Linked DNA regions of Homo sapiens: region 1 is linked to region 2. The links come from fine-mapping of genetic effects on gene expression. Tissue or cell type: tibial nerve. Region 2 holds a variant in brackets; the other region holds the start of a gene. All regions are shown on one strand. Distances are from middle to middle.

Region 1 (2,911 bases), 22 kb before region 2:
CTATCAAGATTGCTGATGTAAGTTTCAAGTTGTGTCTTCAAATAAACTCTGTCACTCAAGTCATCCACCAAGATGATCTCTTTCAAAAGAACTGCAGGAGAAGTTTCTAAAACACTGTGAATGGTACGGAGCAAAGTCGACCAGGCTTCGTTATAGAAAGCAATGATAACAGAGGTGGTAGGAAGTGTCCTATAGTTGAACTTCTGGGACTTACACTCATACATTCTTTTATCCTCTATGTGTCGATGCAGGGAAATCCTGTCACTGAGGTAAATATTGATGGCGTATCTCTCAATGAGTTCTTCTTGCTGCTTCAGTTCATCCTCGTTGAGCTGGAGTTTGCTGGCTTTCCCCCACTCCCCAAGTGCACGGGAATCTGCAGGGGGCTTCTTATAAAGCGGTCGAGACAAATCCTCCGTATTTTTCTGGAGGTCTGAGAGCCTTCTTGACCCCAGCTCCCTGGCACGGCCGGCTCCTGCGGAGGCATGAAAAGTAGAGACCAAGAGCTCCACGAAGATATAGGCCACTGTTAAAAACGCCAGCAGCAGGCAGCTCTTGCCTGCCCAAGTCCACCTCACCGCCATCCGGATTCTCAGGGCTGAGGCGCAGACGCGGCCACCAAGCCACCACGCAGGGGAAGGGCGGCGGAACCCACAGCTCGAGCTCAGGTACTTCCCAGCAGGTTCTTCCTTTCATGCAGGCGCTAGGCTCCTTTCCAGCCACCCAGGCTTTCCAGGGGTCACCTGAGCCCTCTCGGTCCTCGGCCTCCGGCACAGCCCAACTCCTCTCTCCCTACTTCCTCCTGCTCGGCTCACAACTTTTCACAAACTCTCCAGCCAACACCCCACCCTCCCCGGGCCGAGGAGAAACCCCTCCCCTTCCCACTCACTCCTCCTGGTGGTTAGTTTGCGAAAGTCGTCCGCCAGGCCCAGACCGCTGGATAGGAGGCTCTTGGCCGGGCCGGGGGCTGGGGGCCGGGATGGCAGAGGGGGCCCTAGCTGCGCCCCGCCGCGCTGGGCCCTCGTCTCCGGGTGCTCTCAACCCTCATACAGGCCCTTAGCCGTTCTCCTAGGGACCCTGCCCGGACAGGAGGAAAGGTTTCCGGCCCATGGAGTTTAGTCTCATTACAAAAGCAAAACAAGAATAAGACTTACCAAGTTGCTTGCCGTTGGGGCTGAGGTCCAAGGAGGTGATCGCAGCTTTGTGGCCTTTGAAATAACGCTCCAGAACGGGGTCCTCCTGGAAAGGAAAGTTGTCAAGTTTTGAAAGCCGCCGCAGACCTCGAATTCTGGCGGCTGGGATCCACGCTGCCACTTCCCCGGAGTCCGGCTTGGGAATGGCCACCCAGGCGGCGGCTTGGCTGGGCGGCGGGGCCGGGCAGCAGCCCACCCACGGGCGCGGCGCCCAGTCCTGCTACAGGGAGACGCCGGCGCCAGCTCTCCCCGCAGAGCCCGCAAAACGCTCTGTTCGCGCTTCCCAGAGTCCAGCGCATCGCAGGAACCGCGGCCCCTTTGAAATGCACGTTCCCGGGCCCCGCCCGCTGGCCCAAGGCAGGCAGGTGCGAGGATGCGCCTCGGCTTTGGTACTTTTTTTTTTTTTAATACTTCCTAGGTGATTCTGACGCAGGCGCTCCACGGAAACCCTCCGAGAATTCTGGGGGCCGTGGGGCCGCCCAGCTCAGTCCGGAGCTCCGGAACTCGGGGAAGAGCGTCCGGGAGCCGGGTCTGGGTTCCGCACTCCGTCCGCCCCGATGGCAGAGAGTGAGATACGGACGCCCCGGGACGAGGGGCTCAGGACCCGGCTACGGACACCTGCCTCCATCTCCCTCCAGGTGCGGCTTCGGCCCGGACCTGGCCCCGCAGCCCGCGGGACAGGCTCCAGGGAGGGACCCCCCCCACCTCCAACCCGTCCTTACCGTGGCTGAGGCCATCGGGGGAGTGGTCGGCCCAAGGCTCCTGTGGGTGGGGGAACCCGGAGAGGGGAGGGGAGAGGATGGGGAAGGAGAGGGGACCGTGCGGCTCCCGGAACCGTCTGCCCAGAGCGGCAGCGCCTCCCGGTCACTACAACAACGGCGGCCCAGTCAAACCCCGCGCTCCAGGCATGGCCAGCCGAGCCCCGAGACACCGCCAGCCCTGTAAAGAGAGGACGGGAGGTATGCGCCGGGTCAGCTGTGGCCACACACCAAGCCATGTTAACTAACACTCGCGTTCTCCCTGGTTTGATGTCAGGAAGTGGGGTAGTAACCAGGACTGGAATAAGAGCGATGAATGGAAGGGCGTTGTGAGCCTGTGATCGATGCGATCAGAGTTCTATTACGTTTTAAAGAGACAGCACCCGTGACGTTTAAGGTGATCCCCTACCGCTTATTTTGTTGACGTAAAGCTTTGACATGAAGAGGGGCAGCTTGCTAGTTATTAATATACTAAAAGGAACTAAATCCCCTGAGGGCAGATTTGAATTTATTTAACCACTGTTTTCCACACAGTGCCCTGCAGGATATTGATATAGTTGCTGGATGTGCGTGATGAATGAATGAGTGAATGAATGAATAAATGTTGTGCATGCACTTAATAATTTTCTGCGATATGTTTCCATTCTCATCTGCTTATTTGCGTATACCTTAGAGCACTAAACTTACACAGCTGGATACTTAAAGTCTTTAGGAAGACTTGGAAACATGGTTTTTTTTGTTTGTTTTTTGTGAGACCACGTTTCTACAGCAGGCTTTGTTACACATAGTATCATTTGTGCTTCAGCCAAACAATGAAGTTGGTAGAATTACAAAATGTTTTCAATGTTTCCAAGTTATAAACTTGATTCCTAGATATTGGTCTTAGAGGTCACACAGAGACAGTTCTTCTAATTCCAAGTCCATATCCTTTTTTTTTTTTTAACCCTGCCTCAAAGCGTG
Region 2 (2,911 bases):
CCAGCAGGCTCCATAAATGAGCCTTCGATAGGACATTTCATCATTCCATCAATCTAGCTGCTTCCAGGTAAGAACAATGAATTCTACGATGTGAGCGTAATACCACAGCTGTTTCACTGTAAATGAGTTCCTTGATCAGTGACAATGCTGTGTGTGACACCATGGGGATGAATAAGGCAGCCTATCAACCACATATGGTAGTGCTGGCGGAAGCAACATGCACAGGAAAGGGAAGTTACTCTCCAGTATATGTAATTATTCCCATGAAGACAAATTCCTGCCCCTTCCATAATGTAGTGGTCTGATATTATCAACCTGGGTGGCTGATACTTCCAAGAAATAGTGCCAAATAAGGGTTCAGTGTTGCCTTCCGTTTTAGAAATCTGGGCACTCAGCAGTGACAGTGGCAGATCAGCTGTGATGTGAGGAAGTCCATGTTTATTTATTTCATTGCCTCTGTTCCTATTCCCATGGCCACTTTGTACATGAGACATTTACCCAAGCACAAACATGGCCAGTGTCTTAGCATGCTCAACTGCTTTAACAAAACGCCGTAAACTGGGTTGTTTATAAACAGCAGAAATTTATTTCTCACAATTTTGGAGGCTGGGAAGTTCAAGATCAAGGTTCTAGCAGACTCTGCGTCTGGTGAGAGCCTATTTCCTGGTTCACAGAGGGCCACCTTCTGTGTCTTCATATGGTGGAAAGGGCTATGCAGCTCTCTGGGATTTCTTTTATAAGGGCACTAATCCCATTCATAAGGGCACTTAACTTCCCTGGGGACTTAACCTCCCAGTGGCCTCACTTCCTAATACCATTCACATTGGTGATTAGGTTTCCACATATGAGTTTTGAAGGGACACAAATATTTAGACCATAGCAGCCAGGGAAGGAGGCTCACTACAACCAAGGGATAGGTCATCTTGGCCACCTCCTCATTTAGCTTTCTGTGAGGTAGATGTCCTCTGGGGGAACATTTATATGCTATTCAAATAGCCTCAAAGACTAGCCATTTTTAGAGGTCCATTATATAACTTCCCTTTAGGTGATCTTGGCACCAACCTTCCAGGTCCCTGATAATTTGACCAACCCATTAGCCCCTGCCTGTGTATTTCAGGAAACCTCAGCTTATCCCTTCTTTCATGTCAGTGGCCAACCAGATGTACTTCCTGAAGTTCTGTCTATGGGAAGATTTTCCTATGGCTTGCAGAGCCACCCCAGACAGATAATTCTTAAACCAGACCAGGCCACTGTCACCCTCTTTTCTCATCAAAGGGTCATAGGGAATACCCGGGGAGACCAGAGGTACGGTTTGAGGGAAAGGCGGGAAGCAGTAAGAAGTCTGACTCATCAGCTTTTGCAGAGAAGAGAAGTGCTGAGAATAGATCTGAGGGTGTGAGGGGATAAAGAATAACAGCTCACCCACGTCTGTGCAGTTCTTTACCCTAAAGTTTAAGTGAAATGATTCTTCATCAAGCTTCTTCTCACTTGATTTAAGAAAATCCTTAGAGATATAACAGCATCAATATTGCAAACCAATAAGGAAACAAAGCAATAGCTTAGCCCTTGACATATATTTCTGATAAGTAATGTATTTCATGGTCTTTCCTAAATGTACATGAGGTAGAAGTAGATATATCCAAT[G/A]TCTATACTTAATTGATTTTTGCCAGAAAGTCTATCTTGAAATGTGAGCTTCTGATAAATTCCTTCTATTTGTGCTTTTTTAGAACAAGTTCCATTTTTATGTTGTCTTTGTCAGTGACGGAGGAAATCAGATCAATTTTTTAAAGTCAGTTTTTTATATAAGCATTACTGAAACTATTGAAATCTGAATATGGTGTTTTTAAAATAAACTGTGTTAAACTAATTTGTAATATCAGAAGTCAGGAAGGGAAGCATGAGGGGGCATCTAGGGGCTGGTAATGTTGTGTTTCCTCCTGTGGGTATTGGTTACCTGAGTTAATTTTTTTTTGTGAAATTACAACAAGCTGTGCACTTATGAAAGTTGTACTTTTCTATACATGTATTCTTATTCAATAAAAAGAAAAAAATGAAAGGTGCTCCATATAATGATGACCTTTTGGCAAACATTTCCATGAAATAGAAACTAGATGAAAAAATTTTATGAAATGCTGCGTAATTAGTGGATTCTTCTGGCTAAACAGCCCATCAAAAACACTTACTAAAGACCTAGAATTATTAAAGACCTAAGAATGCAATGACTTGCATTAGATATAGCTGATAGGCCAGTGAGAAGGACAACATATCACAGATTAATCAATTCATTCACAAAACGAAAACACTGAACACTTACTATGTGTCAGACACTAGTCTATATGCTTGAGGTTCCATGAGTAAGTAAATCATTCCATGTCCTTGTGGAACTGATGCCTAGTGAGGGGAGACAGCCAGCCAATTAACAATAAACAATGAGTAAATTACATGATATGTTAGATTGATAAGGGATGCTTAAGAAAAAGAGCAGAGTGAGTAAGCATTGTGGGGAAGTTTGCAGTTTTAAATAGGCTGTTCAGATCGGCATCACTAAGAAGGTGATATTTATGCAAAGGTATAAAGGAGAAGATATTGGCCATATGGGTAGCTGGGGAAGAGAATCCAGGCAGAGGGAATAGTGAGGCAGGAGAGAACCTGACAAGTTCAAGGCAAAAAAGCCAGTGTGATTAAGACAAAGTGAGAAAAAAGAAAAGGAGTTGATGTGAGGCCCGGGAATCAATGTGGGGAAGGAGAATTCCAGGCTGCTGCAAGATTTCCATTTTCACTTTCAATGAAATGGGGCACCATTGCAGGAATTGGGCCAGAGAGTGGCATAAGCTGACAAATTTTGAAAGTATCTTGCAGCTGTTTTGAGTAGAGGCTGAAGAGGAGAAATAATCCAGGTGAAAAATGATGG

Evidence for each region. PIP is the estimated chance that this variant, and not a neighbour inherited with it, causes the effect.
Region 1: it holds the start of POC1B-AS1, and the variant in region 2 is fine-mapped to the expression of POC1B-AS1 in tibial nerve (GTEx, PIP above 0.99). The same link has a PIP of 0.9 or more in esophagus muscle, lung, subcutaneous fat, thyroid and tibial artery.

What each region holds. Positions count from the first base shown.
Region 1 is chr12:89,523,966-89,526,876 of GRCh38, forward strand. It overlaps POC1B-AS1 (POC1B antisense RNA 1), which reads left to right and starts at 1,605. Exons shown (of 2, transcript NR_146294.1): 1 at 1,605-1,831. It overlaps POC1B-DUSP6 (POC1B-DUSP6 readthrough), which reads right to left and starts at 2,082. Exons shown (of 11, transcript NR_189589.1): 1 at 1,916-2,082; 2 at 1,155-1,239. It overlaps POC1B (POC1 centriolar protein B), which reads right to left and starts at 2,082. Exons shown (of 12, transcript NM_172240.3): 1 at 1,916-2,082; 2 at 1,155-1,239. The coding sequence starts at 1,930. POC1B-GALNT4 (POC1B-GALNT4 readthrough) reads right to left here and starts at 2,297. Exons shown (of 3, transcript NM_001199782.1): 1 at 1,916-2,297; 2 at 1,155-1,239. The coding sequence starts at 2,190. It also overlaps GALNT4. RefSeq lists an enhancer at 548-757 and silencers at 848-1,227, 1,778-2,037.
Region 2 is chr12:89,545,953-89,548,863 of GRCh38, forward strand. No RefSeq gene overlaps it. Among named protein-coding and RNA genes, the nearest start is that of POC1B-GALNT4, 21 kb to the left of the region's middle. The variant G/A (reference allele first, on the strand shown) is at 1,645.